Homo sapiens: one gene and its partners. The protein of the gene in region 6 interacts with the protein of the main gene of each other region in a biochemical or structural test. Each region holds a gene or a part of one and is shown on either strand. Other genes may lie near its edges.

What was found.
Region 1: the proteins of RASSF6 (region 6) and DEPTOR interact in a test that uses a peptide from one of them, tested with the Homo sapiens proteins (one large-scale study listed by IntAct).
Region 2: the proteins of RASSF6 (region 6) and MPP3 interact in a test that uses a peptide from one of them, tested with the Homo sapiens proteins (one large-scale study listed by IntAct).
Region 3: the proteins of RASSF6 (region 6) and PDZD8 interact in a test that uses a peptide from one of them, tested with the Homo sapiens proteins (one large-scale study listed by IntAct).
Region 4: the proteins of RASSF6 (region 6) and FRMPD1 interact in a test that uses a peptide from one of them, tested with the Homo sapiens proteins (one large-scale study listed by IntAct).
Region 5: the proteins of RASSF6 (region 6) and SHANK1 interact in a test that uses a peptide from one of them, tested with the Homo sapiens proteins (one large-scale study listed by IntAct).
Region 7: the proteins of RASSF6 (region 6) and FRMPD2 interact in a test that uses a peptide from one of them, tested with the Homo sapiens proteins (one large-scale study listed by IntAct).

The regions. Positions count from the first base shown.
Region 1 is NC_000008.11:119,929,222-119,932,721, forward strand, and holds part of DEPTOR (DEP domain-containing mTOR-interacting protein), read left to right. Parts: intron 1-593; coding exon 594-717; intron 718-3,500. UniProt on the Homo sapiens protein: Negative regulator of the mTORC1 and mTORC2 complexes: inhibits the protein kinase activity of MTOR, thereby inactivating both complexes. DEPTOR inhibits mTORC1 and mTORC2 to induce autophagy.
Region 2 is NC_000017.11:43,809,147-43,812,646, reverse strand, and holds part of MPP3 (MAGUK p55 subfamily member 3), read left to right. Parts: intron 1-1,441; coding exon 1,442-1,535; intron 1,536-1,731; coding exon 1,732-1,840; intron 1,841-3,500. UniProt on the Homo sapiens protein: Participates in cell spreading through the phosphoinositide-3-kinase (PI3K) pathway by connecting CADM1 to DLG1 and the regulatory subunit of phosphoinositide-3-kinase (PI3K). Stabilizes HTR2C at the plasma membrane and prevents its desensitization.
Region 3 is NC_000010.11:117,291,941-117,295,440, reverse strand, and holds part of PDZD8 (PDZ domain-containing protein 8), read left to right. Parts: exon of another isoform or gene 1-1,977; intron 1,978-3,500. UniProt on the Homo sapiens protein: Molecular tethering protein that connects endoplasmic reticulum and mitochondria membranes. PDZD8-dependent endoplasmic reticulum-mitochondria membrane tethering is essential for endoplasmic reticulum-mitochondria Ca(2+) transfer.
Region 4 is NC_000009.12:37,741,454-37,744,953, forward strand, and holds part of FRMPD1 (FERM and PDZ domain-containing protein 1), read left to right. Parts: intron 1-2,935; coding exon 2,936-3,500. UniProt on the Homo sapiens protein: Stabilizes membrane-bound GPSM1, and thereby promotes its interaction with GNAI1.
Region 5 is NC_000019.10:50,660,803-50,664,302, reverse strand, and holds part of SHANK1 (SH3 and multiple ankyrin repeat domains protein 1), read left to right. Parts: intron 1-1,620; coding exon 1,621-2,338; 3' UTR 2,339-3,500. UniProt on the Homo sapiens protein: Seems to be an adapter protein in the postsynaptic density (PSD) of excitatory synapses that interconnects receptors of the postsynaptic membrane including NMDA-type and metabotropic glutamate receptors via complexes with GKAP/PSD-95 and Homer, respectively, and the actin-based cytoskeleton.
Region 6 is NC_000004.12:73,582,437-73,585,936, reverse strand, and holds part of RASSF6 (ras association domain-containing protein 6), read left to right. Parts: intron 1-572; coding exon 573-757; intron 758-1,103; coding exon of another isoform or gene 1,104-1,118; exon of another isoform or gene 1,119-3,331; intron 3,332-3,500.
Region 7 is NC_000010.11:48,240,197-48,243,696, reverse strand, and holds part of FRMPD2 (FERM and PDZ domain-containing protein 2), read left to right. Parts: intron 1-1,344; coding exon 1,345-1,536; intron 1,537-3,204; coding exon 3,205-3,337; intron 3,338-3,500.

The DNA of each region.
Region 1 (3,500 bases), on a different chromosome or scaffold from region 6:
TTTGCACATGCCATCGTTCTCTTGGAATACCCTTTCGCCTCATTTTTTGCCCAATTTCGATTCATTCTTCAGGTCTCCACTTACATGAAAACTCTTCAGGGAAGCTTTCTTTTTCAAAAGCTGTGTCACTGTGTTCCTGGGGCACTGGGTACTCTTCCTTTGGGCTCCCATTGCACTCTCTCCTTACCTCTGTAGCCTTATCACACCATATTTCAATTACAGTTGACATTTCTCCTTACCTCACTAGATTTCACATTCTTTGAGGCTGATGCATGCCCCAATATGCTTTAGAAGAATTTGTGGATTGCATGATGAATTGAATTGTGTGAACTTCCTAAATATGATGATGATGATGATGATGATGATGACTATGGTGATGGTGATGGTGATAATAATAGCTAAAAATACTGAGGACTTACTCTGTACCAAGTACTATGTAACTATTTTACAAGTATTAGCTCATATGGTACATATTTGCATGCATGAAGAATGTGATAGTGAAATAATTCTTAATTAGCATCATACTTCGCTTGAGTAATTAAATAAGAGCGATTTTTTTTCTCATTTGCTTCTCTGTGCATATTGTGTTTCAGTGTGTGATGAGCATAAGGAATTCAAGGATGTCAAACTCTTCTACCGCTTTAGAAAGGATGACGGCACCTTCCCATTGGATAATGAAGTGAAGGCCTTTATGAGAGGACAGAGGCTATATGAAAAGTATGTTCCGCATGAAATCCCCCCTGTAATCTTGACTTATAGAAAGAAGCAGAACTGTGCCAGTCTCATTATGTTGATTTCAGCGTGGCTTTTCTATGTGGGCTGGTTACATAACTGTTCTTTTCCATATGAGAAAACTATCAAGCATTTGCTGTCTCTTTGCCAGAAAATAAGTCAATTTCATAAGGTTCTTAATAAAGAATTTACTTAAATCTTATTTTCTGTATTTAAGTTGATTCTACAAAGCTCCAGAATTTTTGTTTACCATCAAATGATGTGGATGCCCCTTTCCTCTCTTATTTTTATTTTTTATTTTTTGGCACTGAGTCTCACTCTTGCCCAGGCTGGAGTGCAGTGGCATGATCTCGGCTCACTGCAACCTCCGTCTTCTGGGTTCAAGTGATTCTCGTGCCTCAGCCTCCTGAGTAGCTGGGACTACAGGCATGAGCCACCACACCTGGCTAATTTATGTATTTGTAGTAGAGACAGGGTTTCACCATGTTGGCCAGGCTTTTCTCAAACTCCTGACCTCAGGTGATCTACCAACTTCGGCCTCCCAAAGTGCTGTCATTGCAGGTGTGAGCCACCGTGCTTGGCCCCCTTTTTTCTTTTAAATACTGTTGTTTTGTAAATTGGAGTTTCAGGCTTGTAAGTGACTGGAGAAGCAGCATCGAGAGCAGGGGAATTGGTCAGGCCAGGAGATGAGTAGTGAGAGAACTTCAGATAGCTGGATGTCTATGAGGAACAAGTTTCAGCCCTTTCAAGAGATAAGTATAGTGTAGCACAGGAGTTTTTGGTTGGTGGGTCTCGAATCTTCTGAGTGGCCATCTCTGGGTTGATCTGCTACTTCTGTGGCCTCTTTACCATTCTGCCTTCCTCATTTAGTTTTCCAGGGCAACCATTAGAAAAAGGGGTGCAGAAGCAATGGCACGTGCTTTGTAACCCTGGCTGCCTTACAAGACTTGAGGGAATTGAAAAATACGTATTTATCGGCCAGGCACGGTGGCTTATGCCTGTAATCCTAGCACTTTGGGAGGCCGAGGTGGGTGGATCACTTGAGGTCAGGGGTTGGAAACCAGCCTGGCCAACATGGTGAAAGCCCGTCTCCACTAAAAATACAAAAATTAGCCCACCATGGTGGTGAGTGCCTGTCATCCCAGCTACTTGGTAGGCTGGGTACGAGAATCGCTTGAAACCAGGAGGCAGAGGCTGCAGTGAGCCGGGATCACGTTACTGCACTCCAACCTGGGTGACAGAGTGAGACATCATCTCAAAACTAAAAAAAAACAAAACATATTTGTCACATAAAAGAGCCTGTTGTACAGTGGTTGGGGGTAAGGGTCTGGGTGGGTGTCTGAGTGGTCAGATTAATTGGCATGATGGTTAAAAGCCAGACAGAGTTTGAAGTGTAGCCCTGTCACCTTACCTTTGTAAAGCTCAGTGTCCTCATTAGTGACATGACAGCAGCAATAGAACCTACCTCCTAGTGCTGTTGTGGGAGTTAAACGATAGCTGTGTCAAGTGCTTAAGTATTTAGCTCAGGGTCTCTGGTGTGTAGTAAGACCTCACAGATGATAGCCATTCCAAATACGAGCACAGTACTGACGGCCACCCTCGACTGTGTCCTTCCTGTGTTATGCGCTCTGTCCCAGTTCTTGTCTCCGTTTCTTGAGGTGGAATGATCACCATTTGATGTCCTAATTTGTACTCAGTCTACTATCACTTGCTTTCTATACTGAAATGGAGAAACTCTCTCATCTTTCTGACTCACATGAATTTGAATGGAAGGGATCCATCAGAACCTCCATTTGTTTACTTGAACATGTGCATTTGTTTTGTTGCTACTTTCTTTTAATTTCTTAGTTCCTTTTGTAAAATTCTAGCAGGTGTTAGGTATTTCAATTACAATGATGTTCCTTTCAAACAATGATTCTATGTTGGCCAAAACATGCATGTCATCTCCAAGGATGAAGGCCAGTGGATTCTGTAAACGCTTTTCCTTTTTTTTTAATTAAAAAAGATTATTATTATTATTATTATTATTATTATTATTATTTTATAAAGACAGGAGCTTGCTCTGTCTCCCAGGCTGGAGTGCAGTGGCATTATCATAGCTCACTGTAACCTTCAATTTCTGGGCTCAAGTGATCCTCCTGCCTCAGCCTCCCAAGTAGCTGGGAGTACAGACTTATGCTACCATGTCCAGCTATTTTTTTTTTAACTTTTTGTAGAGACAGGATCTCATTATGTTGTTCAGGCTGATATCAAACTCTGGTCCTCAAGTGATCCTCTTGCCTTGGCCTCTCAAAGCACTGGGACTACAGCCATGAGCTACTGCACCTATAACACTCTTCTCTAGCTACAGCTTATCTCTTGGGATCTGCATAACCACACTGTGGGGCAGGGATCAGCTATAATTGAAAATGTCTGGCAGAGAACTGTTATTGCTTAATGGGATAGTTATGATGGCAAGACAGTAAGAAGAGTTAAAGTTGCTCACATCTTCTAGAAAGCAGACTTACTCCAGCCTCATGTTCTGTTGGATCTCCCTTCCATCCTATGGGCCAGTCACACAGCACTGTGTATCTCTGAGCATCTTCTTTCCCTTCAGGAGATGCATTAATGCATTAATTATTCAACAAATATAGATTGAGCCCTTTCCACATGCTAGGCACAGCTAAAGACACCAGAAATGCCTGTAGCAAAGCCCCTGCCTTCATGAGCTTGCACTTCAGTTGAAGAGGCAGACATTAAAGGCACAGACACATGAAGATGTGACAGAG
Region 2 (3,500 bases), on a different chromosome or scaffold from region 6:
GGAAGCCTTCCCAGAGGCAGTGACTTTTATGCTGGGTTCTGAAGAGTAAATAGGAGTTTTCCAGGCAGAAGAGAAAGGAATAGTTCTCTTTACAGAGGAAACAACATGTGCAAAGGGACGGAGCAGTGTTGGGGACCGGGGAGATTAGTGTGGATGGTGTGCTGGAAAATGGAGCTGAGAGGTTGGGCAGATCACGCAGGTCTCAGATACTCAGCTAGGGTGTTTAGAATGTAACCCATAGATAAATACAAGTTTTTAAGCAGGGGGATGACATGGTTGGAAAAGTGACCCTAGCACCTCTACCGGAGGTTGGACTAAGATGCCACAGAAAGAACACAGGGCATACCCTGGGTGGTTCCCATGGGCCAGAAGACACAGTGCCTCAAGATCCCATTTTATCTTTTGGAAAATACTGTGTGTGTGGCTTTGTGTGTGCCCTTGTTCTGCAGAAGACCTGATTTTCCTCAGAAGTGTGCATCCCAATTCTGTTATGGAAATCAATGAGAAAACACCATGTGTTTCAACATTTTTGTTTGAGAGCCAGCCTTGCTGAAACACATCCGATCTATATAGGGACGGTCTGTCTTCCTGTCTCCTTTTTCTGGAGATGAGAACTAATTGACTAAAGAATTAAAAGCATACATCAGGGTCAAGTGTATGTGTGGCTCCTTTGCTCTCAAAAAATAAAAAACAATGAAGAATTAAAAGTTAGGACTAGGGGTCCCTTAAGTGATTCTTTAAAAGCCACAGCATATGCTGGGCGCGGTGGCTCATGTCTGTAATCCCAGCACTTTGGGAGGCTGAGGCGGGTGGATCACCTGAGGTCGGGAGTTCGAGACCAGCCTGACCAACATGGAGAAACCCCATCTCTACTAAAAATACAAAATTAGCCGGGTGTGGTGGTACATGCCTGTAATTCCAGCTACTCGGGAGGCTGAGGCAGGAGAATCGCTTGAACCGAGAAGGCAGAGGTTGCAGTGAGCCGAAATCATGCCATTGCGCTGTAGCCTGGGGAACGAGCAAAACTCCGTCTCAAAACAAAAAACAAAACAAAACAAACAAAAAAAAAACACAGCATCAGGGAGTCAGTTAGCAGAGTGGTTAAGGGTATAAGCTGGGCATTTGGCAGAGAGACCGATTCTGGCTGTGCTCTCTACTGGTTGTGGGTCACTGTGCACAGTGCTGAACCTCTCCGTGCCTCAGTTTTCTCAGCTGCAAAAGGAAAAGCCTCCTTTTGCCTACATCAAAGAGTTGTTGTGTGAATCAGTGATACGCCTGCCTGGAAAGGCACAGTGCCTGATACAGGGACATGCAATGAGGTGGAAGTGCCTGGTTTAGACACAGCAGCAGTGAACTCCCAAATGAGTGCCTAAGCCTGCTGCTGTCCCTGCGTGCTGTGATGTGACATCTCTTTGCCCAGCTTTCCTTCTTTCTTTAAAAGATACCACCAGGCCCCGAAAGAGCCATGAGAAGGAAGGAGTGGAATATCACTTTGTGTCTAAGCAAGCATTTGAGGCCGACTTACATCACAACAAGTACGTTGCTTGATGGGCCAGTTGGCCCTCCAGGCAGTTGTGTGTTTTTGTATCTGTATTCCACTAGAGCTCCTGGGAGGACTCCCGGAAAGGATGGGGGAAGCGGGAGAGAAGTCATGTTGGGAGGTCCCCTTTGCTTTGCTAATTTAGGAAAGCTGAGGAACTAAAGGCCTTTTCCCCTTTGGTGGTGTTTTAGGTTCCTGGAACATGGTGAATATAAGGAAAATCTGTATGGAACCAGCCTGGAGGCCATTCAGGCTGTTATGGCCAAAAACAAAGTTTGTTTGGTGGATGTGGAGCCAGAAGTGAGTTGCTGGGCCTGCTGGCCATTTCTGGTTAACGGAATTTATAACTAGGGGATTGTACATTTTACACAACACTTAACCTCAGTCTAAGGAATTTTTAGTCTAGAACACTGGCTGTTCAATTTCTTTGGGTCTTCCTTTGAGAATCAAATGAAAGCCTTGTACCCCAAAACATGCCCCTCTATCCACAAATGCTGCATTAATTGTAGGGAGCTTGTGGACACTCTGGTGGCCCACAGACCCAGGCTAGTAACTCCTGCGTGGAACAGATCATGCAATAGTTGGTGGCGCTGACTGGCCATTGCAATGTGCCAGAGAATTAGATGTCAGTACCCAGGTGAAACTGGGGCTGAGCTCTCGGTGCCAGGCCTCCCCCTCCCCAACCAGGGCAGGTGGAGTCAGTGGCTTAGAGAACCACTCAGGGAGGCAGTGAGGAGAGCAGTTTAAAGGGGAAAAAGAGGGAGGGAGACACGGCCCTGGGAAGTGCTTCAAAAACATTTCCACTCCTGCACACCCAGCATGCTGTGGACTCAGCAGGGGCTTAACCATCTTTTTAACCTTGTCTTTTAGAAAAACTTCCAAGCTTTGAACTCAATCTGGGGATTTTTTTTCCCCTCTATAGAAACAGATCTCTGATTTTATGCTATAAACTGTAGGCTTTATTTTAAAGAAGTTTGCTTGAAATATATTCCAAAAAGCACGTTATGCCTATAAAGGAAAACACTCATTTGGACTTACAGGGAGTTAGTGATCAAAATTAAAAGTCTGAGTTTCAAAATTTTCTTTGAAAAGTGATTTTATTGATCACTTTATTGATCAAGGGTGCAGATAATGCATATAGCAGTTTAATACTAGTGTTTCCAAGTGGAGCCCTTACTTCTAGATAAAATGCATTAATCAAGAGTACAATTTCTTTTTCTTTTTTTTTGAGACAGATTCTTGCTCTGTCACCCAGGCTGGAGTGCAGTGGTGCGATCTTGGTTCACCGCAAGCTCCGCCTCCCGGGTTCACGCCATTCTCTTGCCTCAGCCTCCCGAGTAGCTGGGACTACAGGTGCCCGCCACCACGCCTGGCTAATTTTTTGTATTTTTAGTAGAGACGGGGTTTCACCATGTTAGCCAGGATGGTCTTGATCTCCTGACCTCGTGATCCACCCGGCTCGGCCTCCCAAAGTGCTGGGATTACAGGTGTGAGCCACCGCACCTGGCCCAAGAGTGCAGTTTCTACAGTCTACAGTTTTAAATGATCTGTTCAGTAATCTCATTTGCTTTGCAAACCTTTTCTTCTTTGAATACCAAGAGGAGATGTAATAGCACAAAGTTTGTAATAATGTAGTCCGATTGATGACATTTGACTAAATAGATACACACTGACTCCTGCTTCCTCACCCATCAGAAATGGAAGGTGGAGAGGAGCCTGAGAAGGTTAATTATAGCCGGAGGAGTCAGAGCTAAGAGAGACAGCAACTGTCTCTGAGCTGAGGCTTAGGAACCTTCTGTTGGCAGTGAGTGTGACTTCAGGGCCCCGCTGAGTTCAACGTCAAAGTGAAGGATGAGAAAAGGAGCAGTTGGTCTGCCCAGTTGAAGTCCATTGTCATGGGACCCATGTAACCAGGACCTTTGCTGTTGAGGTTATGGTATTGAAGCACACGATTATTGAG
Region 3 (3,500 bases), on a different chromosome or scaffold from region 6:
TTAAAAGAATGTATTTTGCCATTGTTGAGTATAATGTTCTATAAGTGTCAGTTAAATCAAGGTTGATGATGTTGAGGTTGCCTGTGCCTCCACTTCTTTTTTCTAGTTATATTGGTTGCTGAGAGGATGAAGAAACCAAGTTTTACCTCTAACAGCAGCTTTAGTAAAGTTACATTGCAAAGAGACATGCTTATAAGAATAGGAGGAATTTGTTACCATGTTTTATGGTCTACCACTGAGTTCATTTTCAGTCTTTTTTGGGTTTTGTTGGTGGTGGTGGGTTTTTTTTGTTTTTGAGGCAGGGTCTAGCTCTGTTGCCCAGGCTGGACTGTAGTGGTGCAGTCATGGCTCAATGCAACCTCCACCTTCCCAGCTCAAGTGATCAAATCAGGATAACTAGCATAGCCATCACCGCAAACATTTCTTTGTGGTGAAAATATTAAAAATAATCTCTTCCAGCTATTTTGGAATATACAATACATTATTAACTATAGTTACCCTATTGTGCAATAGAACATCAGAACTTATACCTCCTAACTGTAACTTTTTATAGCCACTTCTGATCTCCCCACTCCCCCTATTCTCCCCAGCCTCTGGTAACCACTCTTCTACGTCTATTTCTATGAGATCAAGTTTTTTAGATTCCACATATGAGTGAGATCATACAGTATTTGTCCTTCTCTGCCTGGCTTATTTCACTTAACATAATGTCCTCTGGGTTCATCCATGTTGTCATAAATGACTTTTCTCTGGGGTTTTGTTTTTTGTGGCTGAATAGTATTCCACTGTGTTTGTATACCGCACATTTTTTATCCATTTATCCATTGATGGACTCTTAGGTTGATTCCATAGCTTGGCTCTTGTGAATAGTACTGCAGTAATCAAGGAAGTGCAAGTATATCTTCATCATACCAATTTCATTTTCTTTGACTATATACCCAATAGTGGGATTATTGGATCATTGCTAGTTCTATTTTTAAATTTTTGAGGAACCACTGTACTGTTTTTCATAATAGCTGTAACTAATCTACTTTCCCACTAACAGTGTATAGGAGTTCCTCTTCTTCCACATCCTTGTCAATATTTGTTTTTTTGTTTTTTTTTTTTTTTTTTGTCTTTTTGGTAATAGCCATTTATTTGGTAATATGTGTCTTCTCTCTTGTTTCTTGATCAGTTTAGCCTATAGGCTTACCAGTTTTATTGGTCATTTTATTGAGTCAGCTTTTATTGATTTCTCTATTATTTAAGTATCTGTTCCATTGGTTTCTGTTCTTTATTATTTCTTTGCTTCTACTTTGGGGTTTAATTTCTTAAAATGGGGACTTAGGTCACTAATTTTAGATTTTCCCCCCTATATAAGCATTTAAAACTATAAATTTCCTCTAAAACACTACTTTAGTTGCATCCCACAAATTCTGATTGGTTGCATTTTCATCATTTCATTTGAAATATTTTTGGATTTCTCTTGTGATTTTTCTTTAACTCATGAATTATTTAGAAGTGTGTTGTTTTGCTCTCCAGATATTTGGGGTTTTCCTAGTTACTAATTTGTAATTTAATTCCACTATGGTCAGAAAACATGCTTTGTAAGAGTTCTGTCTTTTTAAAATTACTGATATTTGTTTCATGACCTTCTACATCCTGGTGAACTTACCATGTACACTTGAAAAGAATGTATTTTGCCATTGTTGAGTATAATGTTCTATAAGTGTCAGTTAAATCAAGGTTGATGATGTTGAGGTTGCCTGTGCCTCCACTTATTTTTTTCTAGTTATATTGGTTGCTGAGAGAGGGATGAAGAAACCAAGTTATACCTCTAGCAGCAGCTTTAGTAAAGTTACATTGCAAAGAGATATGCTTATAAGGATAGGAGGAATTTGTTACCATGTTTTATGGTCTACCACTGAGTTGATTTTACTGTTCTCTGTACTTTTGTATATATTGGAAATTTTCTGTAATAAAATCTTAAAAGCCAAACCCTCTCAGGTGATATTATATTCCAGGGAATGCATGTTGAAGCCACAGCATGCTTCACCATGTACAGGAAAAATATTTAGGGTTTCTATTTATGTTTGTTTTTTACATTGTCATTTTAAAAGTTCTATTTTGGCATATGTTTTATAGTGCCAGGCATATCCAATAGTCATAAATAATTTTAAGATATAGATGCATACATATGGGAGAGAATTATATATTATATATCATTGTACTATTCTGGTTTTAAAATAGTAGTTTTACCCTAGTGGAAAATCAGTTTTGTTCCAAAAGTTGTGTATCATTGCATGGTCTTGAACCTTATCTTAAATTTTATATTAAAATAACAATGTTTTTGTGAAATACTCATTTTAAAATGCTTTGTTTCACCAGGCTTTTAATTAAGAGGTGTTTTTATATTCTGAAACTTCTGAATCATGTCAGAACTTAATTAAGGTGATGATTTTCATTTCAGGGAATGCTGAAATTAAAATCTAAAATTAGGTCAGTGGGGTGCAGGCTTAAAAGGAAACAAAAACCAGCTTGTAAAAGAAACAGTGTCTTATGTTCTGTTCCCTGTACATACTTGAAATTAAGAGTATTTACTAATAATCAGTAAAAATTGGGGAGAAAGTGAGGTAATGTAATATTGGCCCTAATTATTGCTACTGAAAACCTTATCTTTTTTTTTTTTTGCATCTGGAATGTTTACTTCAGGTATCATTTGAATTAAGAAAAGCAAAGGGAAAGATATGATTTATAGATAGAAAATAAATTAAGAAACTAAATTACACTAACACCTTACACTAGCCTCTATTCACTTCCTAATCCTACCCCCTGAATCTCCATTCTACTTTTAAAAGCAGAGTAAATAACAAAAAAAAAAAACACATTCCAAATGCAGGTGTTAATTTTTAAACTTTACAGTACTCAGACTTACACTGTTTAGGTTTTCTACCCATTTGCTATCATTAGCTTCCTGCAATTAGAAAAACTTACATTCTAAATTTCAGCTTTGGCAATCTGTATATTAAGAATATATTTATGTTCCTGGATTTGAGAGAATATGTTGTTAAGGGTTTTGTTAAAAGCCTTAATTGTGTACAGCACTTTACATTGTAAGGTGATTAATTGCTGTGTCATAAGGCAGGGATTGGACAAATGTCTTAGGAGATTTAAACACAAATTACGTGTTTTGGCGGGGCTTTGTGTTTTGTAAACCTTTAGGTAATTCAGAATTTGACCACATATCCCATTTCTTGAGCACAGTATGATTAAGATTTTCCTTAAAATAACTTTACAAAATTTGTTAACACCCAAATTAAAGAGCAACTTCCAGTGAGGGTTCTTTTACCAGCGAATATCATTAGGTAGGAAAATTGAATTTCTGTCCAAGTGGGATTTATATATTAAAGCAGTGCAGCCAGTGATATATTTGGATATTAGGGTATTTGGCAAAGTCCCTCATGAGATATCCTTGAAGAATAGGACTTAAGAAATGTGGACTGGAGAATAATACAATTAGA
Region 4 (3,500 bases), on a different chromosome or scaffold from region 6:
CACACACACACACACACACACACACACACACACACACACTGCATTCTGAAGGAAACATATTGGAAAAGAGCACATGGATGTTGAAGGTGACCTGCCAGGAGCTGGGAGAGCTGCAGCCCTTGTTCCTGTCTCGGCACTTTCCTGCTGCTCTCTGATCCTCTATTCCCAGACCTCCTGTGCTCTCCCACTGTTCTGGAGAGAAAGGCCAGCTCCTCTGGGAGCCCCATCAGGCCCTTTGAGGCCCTCTGTGACATGGCCTCTGCCTGTCTCTCTCCCTCCTCCTGCATTCCTGCCATACAGACCTCCTTGCCACTTTCTACAAGTGCCTGTTTTTTCCCCCTCCTCCAGCCTTTGCACATGCTGCTCTTTCTGACCGAAACACTCCTCCCCAGATCGTGGCTGATGGTGCCCATCCGTCTATCAGATTCCGGTTGGAATTCACTTCCTCAGAGAACATTTCCCAGGCTTCCCAGGCCAGGGCAAGTCTCCCCATCTCTGTCACATGTTCTTGCATTACCTGGGGCTCTCCCTGTCTGGCACCTCGCACAGCCTGTAAATTACATATTTACTTGTATGATTCTGTGTTGATGTTTCTCTCCATCACTAGACCGAGAACTCCTTTGAGCGTTAGAACTGTGTGTTTCTCACTGTGTCCCCAGCACACAGCGTCTAGCAATTGTTGTTAAATGAATGAATGAAGTCTCCACCATCTACACTGAGTTCAATTGACTGTACCTCTAAGGAAAGGAGAAACCATGGCCAGACTCCTTACTGCTCCCCAAAGTACCCAGACAACCACTTTCCATGCCCCAGCCTTGCCCTGCAGGGCCAGCCATTGTGCCGGGGGGCAGGATGGAAGTGTGGCAGAAACCATCAGTCAGGGCCCTTTTATGGGAGTCTAGTCAGGAACATATGGGGTTCATACCAGACACTGTTTTGTTTTTGTTTTTGTTTTTTATAGGGAGCCAGTGTAGTGCTGAGAAAAGAGCCAGAACTAGGATTCCTCAGCCTGGGTTCTGATTTGGCCCCTGACTGACTATTGGAGCCTCTTTGTCTTTGGGACTTAGAAACTCCTTGGTCGGTGGCTGTCAGTAGCCTAGGGCAGTCAAATGTGACTGGGCATCAGAATCACCTGAGGGACCTTGTTTAAAAACTATAGATTTGGCCGGGCGCAGTGGTTCACACTTGTAATCCCAGCACTTTGGGAGGCAGAAGCAGGCAGATCACCTGAGGTTGGGAGTTTGAGACTAGCCTGGCCAACATGGCAAAACCCCATCTTTACTAAAAGTACAAAAATTAGCCAGGCATGGTGGCGTGCACCTGTAATCCCAGCTACCCAGGAGGCTGAGGTAGGAGAATCACTGGAACCTGGGAGGCAGAGGCTGCAGTGAGCCGAGATTGCACCACTGAACTCTAGCCTGGCCAACAGAGCAAGATTCTGTCTCAAAAAACAAAAAACAAAAAAACCTAAACCTTATAGATCCCTAGGCCCTAGCCTCAGAGATTCTGACTCCTCAGAGATTGTGGGGAGCAGCCTAGGACTTGATAAGGTTTCTAATAGCATACAGCCAGGTTAGAAATGACTGGTCTGACTACCCAAGCTCTCTGATTCTCAAGTGCTAGGCTCTGATCCTAATTCCTTCTGGCTGATTCCCAAGGGTTCTTTACAATAGTGCCTCTCCTCCCAGAAAGATCCATCCTGGGATGCACAAAACTCGATGCCTGTGACAGAGTTGTGGCCCCTTTACATTCAGACATGAAATGGCAATAACGAGCAGCTTCCTTTTAGTGAATACCTAATGAGGCAGAGGCCTTGTGCTGGGTGCTTTATAAAAATGCACTAATTCCTTTAACCTGCACGGCAGCACTGAATGGCACCATTGGCACTAAAAGACTTGGGTTAACATCAGCACAAAGAAAAAGTGTTAGGAAGTAAGATTGTTTATAGAATTGCTGGCAAGCCTGAAGACCTGGGTTCAGAAATAGACAGCAACCAGGCTAAGAGTCTAGTCACAGGATTCCCTACCTGTATTATCAAGCTATTGTGGTTGGAAAGAATGGCTCTGCTTTTTTTTTTTTTTTTTTTTTTTTTTTTTTTTTTTTTTTAATGTCTTTGGGTTTGGAATTCTGGAGAATTTGTAGCTGATTGGCTGGCGTGGACAGAGCATCTTCGTGAACAGTTCCAGCAGACTCTAACCATTGGGGAGATGTCATTCCCTAAACAGAAGTTGAGATGCTGTGACCAAAAGATAATTAAATGGATCTTAGGCATCCAAAAATTTAATAATGTCTATCACAGCTGGGTGCAGTGGCTCAATCCTATAATCCAAGCACCTTGGGAGGCTGAGGTGGGAGGATTGCTTGAACTCAGGAGTTCAAGGCTGCTGTGAGCCGTCACACCACTGCACTATAGCCTGGGGGACAGAGTGAGACCCTGTCTCAAAAAAAAAGAAAAAAAAAAGTCGGCCAGGCGCGGTGGCTCATGCCTGTAATCCCAGGCCTAGGTAGGCGGATCATTTGAGGTCAGGAGTTCGAGACCACCCTGACCAATATGGTGAAACCCCATCTCTACTAAAAATACAAAAATTAGCTGGGCATGGTGGCAGATGCCTGTAATCTCAGCTACTCCGGGGGGATGAGGCAGGAGAATTGCTTGAACCTGGGAGGCAGAGGTTGCAGTGAGCCGAGATCACGCCACTGCACTCCAGCCTGGGTGACAGAAAGAGACTCCGTCTCAAAAAAATAAAAAAAAATCTGTCACAATTATTATCCCCATCTTTCAGATGAGGAAGTTGAGGAGATCAGGATTGAACTTGCTCAAGGTTACACAGCCTAGCCAGAATTTAAACCCAGGAAAGCCCAAGGCCTGAGCCCAAGCTCTATTAACCTCTTTTTTTTGTGCTTTTTAATGTATTTTTTCTTTCCTGACTCCCAGGGCCCAGAGATGTTTCTACTGCAGAACCCAGTGCCACAAGCTTGCAGAATAAGGCCAGCACTTCTAGCCCTGAGAACAGCCTGCCTTGTGGGCCAGATGGAAGACAGCCAAGCAGGAGGGGAGGGGTGAAGAAATATGCCAAGACCCTGAGGAAAAGAAGGTCTTTCCTACAGACCGACTACACCTCTCAGGTCTCATTTCCCCTGGTGCCATCAGCCTCCCTGGAGAGTGTAGACGACGTGTGCTACTATGACAGGGAGCCCTACCTGGCCCTTGGTGCACCCTCCCCAACTGTGTCCTCTCTGCAGGACATGCAGGGTGAGCCTGGCCTTCTGGAGACCAAGGCCTTGGGGCTGCTGGCTCCTCTGAGGGAGACCAAGAGCACAAACCCAGCCTCCAGGGTCATGGAGATGGAGCCCGAGACCATGGAAACCAAATCAGTCATCGACTCTCGAGTGTCTTCTATTTCTGCCATTCGCTTCCGGATTGACCCCAACAATAAAGAGAATTCTGGTGTTGTCCCTGCTGCCAGCTCCTCAGCAAGCACTCCTCACTGTTCTAACCC
Region 5 (3,500 bases), on a different chromosome or scaffold from region 6:
GCTTCAGATACACAGAGGGTTGGGAGCAGGTTTTAAATATCCTTGTCCATCTACAGAGTTCACTTGAATTCTGTTTGAAGGTCTGCTATCCAAATGTGTCTGACCTTCAAATGTGGGTTCAGGGAGTGTATATTTGGGGCAACTTAAATCTATGCTCCCAGGTTGAAAAAAAAAAAAAAAGAAAGAAAAGAAAAAGGAGGCTGGGCACAGTGGCCTGCCTCTGTAGTCCCAGCTACTCAGGAGGCTGAGGTGGGTGGATCACTTGAGCCTGGAAGGTTGAGGCTGCAGTGAGCTGATATGACACCAAGGCACTGCAGCCTGGGGAACAAAGTGAGACCCTGTCTTAAAAAAAAAAAAAAAAAGAGAGAGAGAGAGAGAAAGAAAAGAAAAAGGAAGTGTATATTATTAGAGCAACTTGAATCAATGCTCCTACGCTGTAAAAATAAACAAACAAATGTGGGTTTATTAGGCCTTTAAGAACTGAATGCAATTCCTTGACTATTCTTAAGTATTCTGGTTAGAGAAGAGGATTTTTTTTTTCTTTTCTTTTTTTTTTTTTCCACTGCTTGTAGCAGCAACAGGAAGGATGCTTAATTCAGTCAACAATTGCATTAATTATTGACTCATGACCTATGTGTGCAGAGTGCCCTTCTGGGTGATGGGATCCCCTGCTGGACAGGACAGGCAAAGACTGTGCAACTCCACAGGGCTCATAGTCTAGGGACATAGGAGTGGGGGCGGGGCAGTAAACAAAATAATTGCAACCATCCTACAAAAAAAGCTACCACAATGGGATGGGTGGAGAAGGTCTCTCATGTAACAGGCAAGGTGGGCAGAGTAATGAAAGTGGAGAGGGAGCAGCTGCCCAGGGCAAGAGTGAGCCAGGCAGGGGGAGCAGCCAGTTCAAAGGCCCTGAGGTGGGACAGTGCTGGAGGGGAGGGAACGAAAGGGATGAGGGGAACCTTTTTCTCCCCTTGTTTCTTCTCTCTTTCATCTCCCTCTCTTCATCTCTCTCTCTCTGTGTCCCCTGTCCCTTCCATCTCTCTCCCCTGGATGCTCACCCTCTTTTTGTCTCTCTCTCACTGTCTCCCCATCTTTCACTCTGCTACGACTGGCCATAACCTGAAAGGCAGTATAGAATAGTGGTGAAGAGCTCAGACTTTGGTGCCATATAACCGGGCTCTGCCACTTCCTGTGTGTCCTTAGGCAAGTTATTTAACCTCTCTGTGCTGATAATAATAGTAACCTGCATCAGGGCTGTCGTGGGGATTAAACTGAGATGCAATCATGTAAAGCACTTAGAACAATGCCTGGCACACGTGAGCATCAGTAAGCGGTGACGATTATTATTATTATCACTTAATGTCTCTTTTTCTTTCATCTCTCTTAACTGTCGCCCTCTCCCTGTCCTCTCATCTTTCTCTCCCTTCATTTCTTTCCTCGACGGCCGGCCGTCTTACCCCTTGCTCCCTCCATTTCTTCCCGTCTCTCCTCCGTCTCTCCCCCTACCCTTATGTCTCTCCTCCTCTCTCCCTATATCTTGACCTCTGCCTCTTTCTCACCCCTGCCCTTGCCCCCTAAATCCCTGTCCTCCCCCACTGCCCCCTTGTCACATTCCAGACTCTCCGACGACTCCCAGTCCTCACTCCTCTCCAAGCCTGTCAGCAGCCTGTTTCAGAACTGGCCCAAACCACCTCTGCCGCCACTCCCCACCGGAACAGGGGTCTCCCCTACAGCCGCTGCGGCCCCAGGGGCCACCTCACCCTCAGCCTCCTCCTCCTCCACGTCCACCCGCCACCTCCAGGGCGTGGAGTTCGAGATGCGGCCCCCTCTGCTCCGCCGGGCCCCCAGCCCCTCGCTGCTGCCCGCCTCGGAGCACAAGGTCAGCCCTGCGCCCAGGCCCTCGTCCCTGCCCATCCTGCCTTCCGGACCCCTCTACCCAGGCCTCTTTGACATCCGTGGCTCCCCAACTGGAGGGGCAGGAGGCTCGGCTGACCCCTTCGCCCCAGTCTTTGTGCCGCCACACCCGGGGATATCCGGGGGGCTCGGGGGAGCCTTGTCAGGGGCCTCGCGCTCCCTCTCACCGACCCGCCTGCTCTCGCTGCCCCCGGACAAGCCGTTTGGCGCTAAACCTCTGGGGTTCTGGACCAAGTTCGACGTGGCTGATTGGCTGGAGTGGCTGGGTTTGGCGGAGCACCGAGCCCAGTTCCTGGACCACGAGATCGATGGCTCCCACCTGCCCGCCTTGACCAAGGAGGACTACGTCGATCTAGGTGTGACCAGGGTGGGCCACCGCATGAACATCGACCGGGCTCTCAAATTCTTCCTGGAGAGGTGATGGCTGGCCTGGACGGACCAGCCCCGTCCACAGAACTCTTGAGCCTGCTGGCCTCTTGACCTCTGACCCCTGACTGTCATTCTCTCCCCGGGCCAGGGACTCTGTTCAAACTGCGCCCTGCCCTCATCTCCCAAGGCCAGAGGTCACCAGGTGGCCCAATCCAGGCCGGACATTTGCACCTCACTGAAGGGGGGCAGCTGACACAAGAGTGTGTGTGTGTGTGTGAAGCGGGGAGCGGAGGGGGGATAGGAGAAATTACAGAGGGGAATTGAGAAGGAGGGAAGGGCCTATTCTGGGGGGAGGGGATAGACAGAGCCATAGAGGGTCAGCCCTGAGCCCGATTGGATGGGGACTGTCCCCCAGGCCGCAGGGGAAGGGGGTGCCCTCGGATTCCACCACCTGCCACCCCTCTAACAACCCTTCCCACTCTCTCCAGGCCCCTCAGCTCTCCCCCCTTCCCCTCTCCCCAGCACACACAGCTGCCCCCCTCAGCCTCTTGCACGCTCCGTTGCACGCCTGCTCACCTCTCTCCCCTCCCGTCCCCGGGCTGCAATTTTGCACAAATTTGCCCTCTCGCTGTCTTGCACATTCTGCCTTTGCTTCTGGCTGGCGAGGCCCGCTCAAATACACTCTGCTCTCCTCGCACACGCTGCATTTCCTTTCTCACGCTCCATGCCTCCTTCTCTGCTTCTTGCTGCTTACACACTTTTCCCCTACCAGGGCCCTCCTTTACACACTCCATTTCACATCTCCTCCTCCCCGCTCGCTCTGGACCCTTGTTGCAGACACACTTGGGACACATTTTCCCTCCCCCTCACAGACTCCATGCACATCATTCATTCTCTGGAGTGCCCTGCTCTTTGCTCAGCCCTTGCACACTTGCTATCTTATGCACCCCTCCTGACACACTCTTACCTCCATTTTCTTACGTTGAAGCACTTTCCCTTCTTATTCTTAAAAACCCCAGATTCTTCCACTCCCCAACTCTCCCCTCTCACCATGACACTCCTAGCCCCCCACCCCCCGCCTTCCCTCTTGCCCCTTTTGCACCGTCACTTTTGGTCACGCCTTTTGCACACTTGCCTCCCAGAAACTGTTTCTCTCACACATGCTCATTCTCTTCTTCTTTGCCAGGCTCCCACTCCCTTGCCCCTTTCTGTTT
Region 6 (3,500 bases):
TTAATGGGTGCAGCACACCAGCATGGCACATGTATACATATGTAACTAACCTGCACATTGTGCACATTACCCTAAAACTTAAAGTATAATAATAATAAAATAAAAATAAAAATAAAAAAATAAGGATCCAGACCTGATTCTATCATTTATGAGTACTATGTCCATAGGAAAGCCACTTCAACTCACTGTACTTTTTCTTACCTGTAAGAGATCAAACCTGATAAAGTATCAGGTTTATTCCAGCTCTAACACTCTGAAATGCCACAAAATGCACTCCCCAATAAATTAAGATTAAAGGAATGCCCAAACCCCAAACATGATCATTGTGATCATTTCTTATGAAACATAAGAATGAGACATAAGAATTTTATATGAGATACTGGCAGAATTTGCTGAGTCAGTCTCAGGCAACATTTAATAAGTAAATATGCAGCTAAGCAGTGGACTATAATGCTTTTACACAGCCAGAAAATAGCAATATTCCTAAAATTAATGAAAGCATACACAAATCCACTCAGGATGCTAGGACACAGGCAGCTGAATGATATGAGCTTATAATCTATTCTTCCCAGACTATTTATCTTATCACAGCAACACCCTGAAGCCACATGCAAAGGATGAACCAGACTCCCCAGTGCTCTATAGAACCATGAGTGAAGCAGCTCTGGTGAGAAAAAGGATGAAGCCTCTGATGATGGACAGAAAAGAAAGACAGAAAAATAGAGCCTCTATTAATGGACACTTCTATAACCATGAAGTAAGTGAGTTACAATTCCATTAATGTAATATAAAATAAGGTTCCCTGTTTCACTAACAATACCACCCAATTCAATTCACAATTTAAAGTCATAATAATAACAGTAGCATGTCTAACATCTTGGGGGCACTCTCTATGTGCTAGATATTAAAGTAAATGTGTTTTAAATAGATTTTTACTGAATTATCTTATTAATCACTAAAACAATCCTATGAAATAGGTACCATTATTTTCTTTACTTGACATATAAGCTAATTGAGGCTTATGGAGATTAAGCAATTTGTCTTAGATTATGCTACTCTTAAGTAGTAACTCTCAACCTGAACCCAGCTTTGTCTGACTCCAGAACACAAGTTTTTAACCACCATGATGGGTGAACTCTATCACTGTGCCAAGTATTAAAAACATGCAGATGAGGCAGCCGATGTCTCAGCCAGCACGGAGCTCAGGGATTGAGCAGGGAAACCAACATACCAACAATAATACTGGAATAATGTAAGTGCTACAAAGTGGTTGGATCAAAGGACATTTGAACGTGAACATTTAAATAAAAGGAAAAAGCCACAGGCCAATTTATTCCAATAAATCAAACTTCTCATGTTGCCATGTTCCAGGTCTTTTACCTATACACATACCGTTTTTATATAAGTGTAGTTGTAGTTTAGATACAATTCACATTCTGCTTTTTCACTGAATATGTGTTAAATTTATATGTGCCTTTCCATAGTGCTTGTAAGACATTACATTTTGCTGAAGGTAGGAAATATATCATCATTTTTTTCCAGAACTCAAATATTTTTCATGTGATGTACTTTAGCAATCATTCATCGCTCCATCTCATAAATACTTAGCACTTACACTGTGCCAGGTATCTTCTGAGGCCTTTAATAAGAAATAGGAACTCATTGCTTTGTAGGCTTTTTCCTGTAAGGATTTCTACTTTATTTCTTCTTCTTCTACCCTTGGGGGGTAACGATAGTGTGTCTTTGGAGCCTGGTGGGGAGAAATCTCTCTTCTCAATTATTTATTCATATCAGAATTTTAGGGTTCCAGAATCATTCTCATAGCTATAAAGTAGCATTGATAGTCCCCCACAGAGAGGTACCTACCAATTGTCCTGTTTCCCTCTTCACAGAAATTGTGTTGTATGTCATTATCTTGTGGGGTAATTTGTGTTGAAGAAGGAAAGCCACATTGCTCCAAGCAAGTGGCTTTCAGATTGGATCACTTGTGCTGGAAATGAAATTGACACTAGGTTGGCAGCACGGAATGGTGGTTAAATGCTTGGGCCCTGGAGCTTGACAGCCTGGTTTTACATTCTTGCTGAGCAAGTTTCATTCTTCTTACTTTACAAGGCTGTTGATGGGATGGAATGAAATGAGGTAAGTTCAGCATAAGAATAGTACCTGGCACAAAAGAACTCGGTCTACATTAGCTTATGTTGTTGCTGTTGATTGAATGAGCTCAAGCTGGGACTATAGATATTTTACACAAATGTCATTCACTGCAATTTAATAACTAGCAGAAAACAATACAAACAAAAAAGAAAAAACAAAGCATTCTATCAACAATTATACAATGACGGACATCTAGGAATTTTAGTGGATATGTTTCTTAAGTTGCTGTGTGTCGTAAGATATGTTTTTATACTATGAAGCCCCTTGTTAATGCCAATATTGTTAGGCTATGAATAACACACATATTAAAGGCTTAGATTGTCATATCTGGAGATTAGTTATGGTGAATATAACTTGACCAGTAGTATATTTCTATCAATGTGATAGTAAATGATAGCAGGTTTCATTATATGTTTTGGCCAACACAACTGATATAAAGACTATAGATTTAAATACTGCTCTGAAAAACAAATTCACTATATGTTGACATTTTAGAAGAGCTCTTAGAGATTAGTCTTACTATCTTATTTTATAAATGAAGTCATTTATCAAATATATGTTAAGTGAGTCAATAAAGATGTTAAATGAGTTGACAAAGTTGGAGTTCGTGGGCATTTAGTGGGCACTAAAATCTAGGTCTCCTGAATGGTAATCCATGTTATTGTCATAGTGCATGAAGCTTCTTCACATAAACAACATCAAACCACGTGTACAACATATCATATTCACCTTAGCGCAGGATGAACATGTGGTTTTTCAGGGCTCCATAGAAATCGTAAATGTCACAGAATAACTTATCAATGCTCTAAAATGTCTACAAATATTGAATTTTCTCATACTTATAAAAGTTTATCCTAGACACTCTCCACACATCTTCTCAGAAAACTTATTTACATATCCACATTTTTACTCACACAAATGCCGTGTGTGTGTGTGTGCGTGTTACATGTGTGGGTGTTATAAATGTTTGTGTCTGTATACTTTGATGTTAATTTACTGATCTCTCAATATAGGACTTATCTTTTTAACAGTCCAATGAGCCACCCCAAAACCCACCCATCTCTACATCTGCTGAACCCACCCCATTTCTACAGAGCCTTGGAATACTTGGAGATTGTGCATATAAATAAAATATGTGGAAATAAATCCTTACTTAATATCTCTATCCGTTTTTAAATATGCATCTGGTGACATTCTTTCTTACTTATTTTGAAATCTTAAACTGCACTAAAGAGGGGTGTAATTGTCCAGTGAAAATGTTATAAGCATCCTCAAATGGTGTTTTACCTAATTTACTCTAGAAACAATATAAAGCTGCTTAAAAGAACACATAATATTCAAAAACA
Region 7 (3,500 bases), on a different chromosome or scaffold from region 6:
TAACGCCTCACTGGCCGTGGGGTTGCCTTCTGACTTCTCAGTGAGACACACCTGGAGCCTAGGATAGGGTCCCTGCTCCCGTCTGGTTCCCCTTTGGCACTCTGCCATAATCAGGACCGGCTTCCTGGGTGTGTGTCCTGAGTGTGTGACCCTGTGTCATAGCACAGGGTCCTGCACTTAGTTTAATGCTCTGCTATCACTGTCCTGGAATTCTTAATAATTTTGAACAAGGGACCCCACATTGCTATTTTCCCCCAGGCCCCTGTCCTGCTCATAATCCCCTTCCCTTCAGATGCATGTCAGCTCATCTGCATCTTCGTGCCTTTGTACACACGGATCCCTTCACCAGCACCTCACTCCCCACTTTCCTCTTGGTTAACTCTAGCCTTGGCTAAGCCCCTTCCTCTACATTAGTGCCATGGCCTGTGCTTCCCAAGGTGAAAGTCCTTGTCATCCTCTATGGTCTTTGTCTCTTTTAGTGACCGTCTCTCTCATCACACCATTATTTTCCTGAAGGCAGGGACTGTATCTGGTGTGGCTGTGCAGCACCAGGCACAAAAGACGCCTGGATTTACTGTGACGGCAGGACTCAGCAGCTTGGCTGTACACAGAGATAGGTGCTCACAGCTGATGCTCCCCAGCAAGAAGCGGTAGTGCAGCCTTTATCTGGAAAGTGACCTGCAGTGTGTGTTGAGCTTGAGAAAAAGTCTGATTTTGAATCTGAATTTGAGGACTTTCTCCTATGAATTGTGGTCATTTAAATGCATGAGGGAAATGCTTATAAGATGCTTCTGTTTTCTTTTGCTCGATGTGTACACGTGACATAAAGTTCAACCAACAACGATTGAGCATTTGTGCTGACTGCTGGCTGTTCCGAAGTGAACAGGAATAGGCCACAGTCTGTATGTTCCAGGAGCTCACATTCCAGGGGAAAGGCCAAGTGAGACCCCCTGAGTGATTGGATACAATGACAAGCTACGCAGGTGAACTTGAGTGAAAGGCTGACCTCTGGTTTGATTTGGGGTGCTTGGCACAGGTGGAAATCCATCTTGTCAAAGCATCTAGTTTTCATGAGCATTCCAAGCATGTGCTTGGGCAGAAGGATGTTCTGGTTTAGAAAGCAGCAGACAACACAGAATTGCTGCAGAGATGATTGCTCCGCACTTTGCGGCCTCAGTGATGGATCTTGTGTCTGTCCTTAAACTCTCCAGAAGGGGCAGGCATCTGCTCTGGTGCTTGTGGGAACACCCGTTTCCATGTCTCCAAGGCCTGCCTGACAAGGTGCTGGCCTCGTAGTGGCAGCTCTGGCTGCTCTCTCCTCTCACCGGCCCTGTCTGCCTCCAGCCCCTGCAGCTCTGCGAGCCCCTGCACTCCATCCTGCTGACCATGTGTGAAGACCAGCCTCACAGGCGGTGCACGTTGCAGTCGGTTCTGGAAGCTTGTCGGGTTCATGAGAAAGAAGTGTCTGTCTACCCAGCCCCTGCTGGTCTCCACATCAGAAGGCTGGTTGGCTTGGTTCTGGGTACCATTTCTGAGGTCAGTAGAGAACCGTGCTTTTCAAGCAGTAGCTGCTGGTCATGTGTGGCTATTAAAATTTGAATTAGTTATATTATCATTAACTAAAATAAAATAAAAAATTAAATTAATCAGTCACATCTGTCACATTTCAAGTGCTCCGTTGCCACTCGTAGCAGGTGATGACCCTATTGAACAGGGTGGATCTAGAACATTCTTGTCATTGCAGTTCTATTGGGCAGTGCTAACAAAGACCTTTAGGCAAGCCCCAGTTTGTCACATGGCTAAGACCCTTGACATCTTTGCAAGTGCGTCCTTACATAAAGCAATAATGTTTAGAACCCATGATTCAGTTTTCTTATCAAAATTCAACTCTAGGTTCTGCACAGAAGCCTTCCCCGACTTCGTTTTTGTGGTCCCTGGGTACCCTCCCCTCTGCTATTTTATACCTGTGGGGTGTCCTTTGTTGTGCTTGTCACACTGTGCTGCTTGCTGCCCTGTGCACTCCACAGAGTGCAGCAAGGGGCCTGGCACATGGGAGGCATTTGGCTTAGGTTGGATTCCCTCCAAGCTAACCCAGAGACAGGGATTCTTGTGCAAGTTATTTACTGGGGAAATGTTCCTGGGAGAGGGGAGTGATGGTAGTACAGCTGACAAGTTGAAGGATATAGTCTCAGCTGGAGACAGGCCCAGCCTGGCCCCCTGGGGAGCTCTGTTGCAGGAATGGCACCATGGAGTTGGTCCCCCATGAGACCTGAGTGGAGCTGGGATAGGATGGGCAAGTGAGGTGCCTATGGCACAAAATGTAAGGAAGTTTGTATTTGGGAGGAACCAGAGACAGGTAAGCTAGAGGCCAGTTGAGTGGCTGCACTTGTCCAGGGACAAGTTGGAGAGCTGAGAGCAGGATTAATGAGGGCCAAAGTGGATGGAGATGTGGGGACAGCAGGGTGGACAGCGGCAACAGTCAATCAGAGAAGGCCTCTGCCATCAGAGAAGGCCTCCTTCTTGGACCCCTTCTCTCTTGGCATAGGAACATGTGGCTCCTATGAATTGAGCCAGAGGATTTGGTGGGGGAAATGGACTATATTTATTTGAAAGATACTGAGGTCTACCATCCACTGGTGTGCCATTGTCCTTGGATAGACAGTGTACTGACCTGCAACATTTCCGTCAGGGATCTGCAAGGTAGATGTCAGTCACGTATTCAACATTCATTGGGCACTGCATTAGGTGTGCTACGGTGGTGCATAAAGCACACAGAGATGTTGGGGGAGACAGACAAGCAGCACACTCATGGAACATGATGCAACAGAGCCAGGTGTGAGTGCAGTGATAAGGGAAGGTGATCAGACGGCAGAGGTAGAGAGGCTTAGAAGTAGAAAGCACACAGCTCTGGGTCTTGTGGGCACAGAGGAGCTTCTGGGGAGGCTGTAGCCATGGAGGGAATGCATGAGCAAAGGCACAGATGTGTGTGAGTGTGCAGGTCTGGAGTGGGGAGTGAAGTGCCTTCAGGGTGCATGCAGGGGGTGGGCACAGAGCACATTCTGGGTGCCAGAGAACACATCTTTAGGTCACCGTATAGGGCAGACAATTCCACATTGATTCAGTCTGACAGCCAGTTTGCATGTATCTATAAAAACGCCCCCTCCTTATCTTGGGATGTGGATGTGTGATGCACTTGACCCCCAGGTGGAGAAAAGAGTTGTGGAGGAAAGCTCCTCTGTGCAGCAGAACAGAAGCTACCTGCTCAGGAAGAGGCTGCGTGGGACAAGCAGCGAGAGCCCAGCGGCACAGGCCCCGGAGTGTCTGCATCCTTGCAGAGGTGGGTACGTGCCCTAAGCAGTCCCTGCGTGGGCTGATGGTACCCATTCTATTTTTTCCTGCCCTGTATGGGCTACACATCCACATTGTGATGGCAGAGAAAGCCTATGTAAGTGCCACTCTTTCAGGAAGCCCCTGAAGAGAAGGGGCTGAGCTTAGGACTC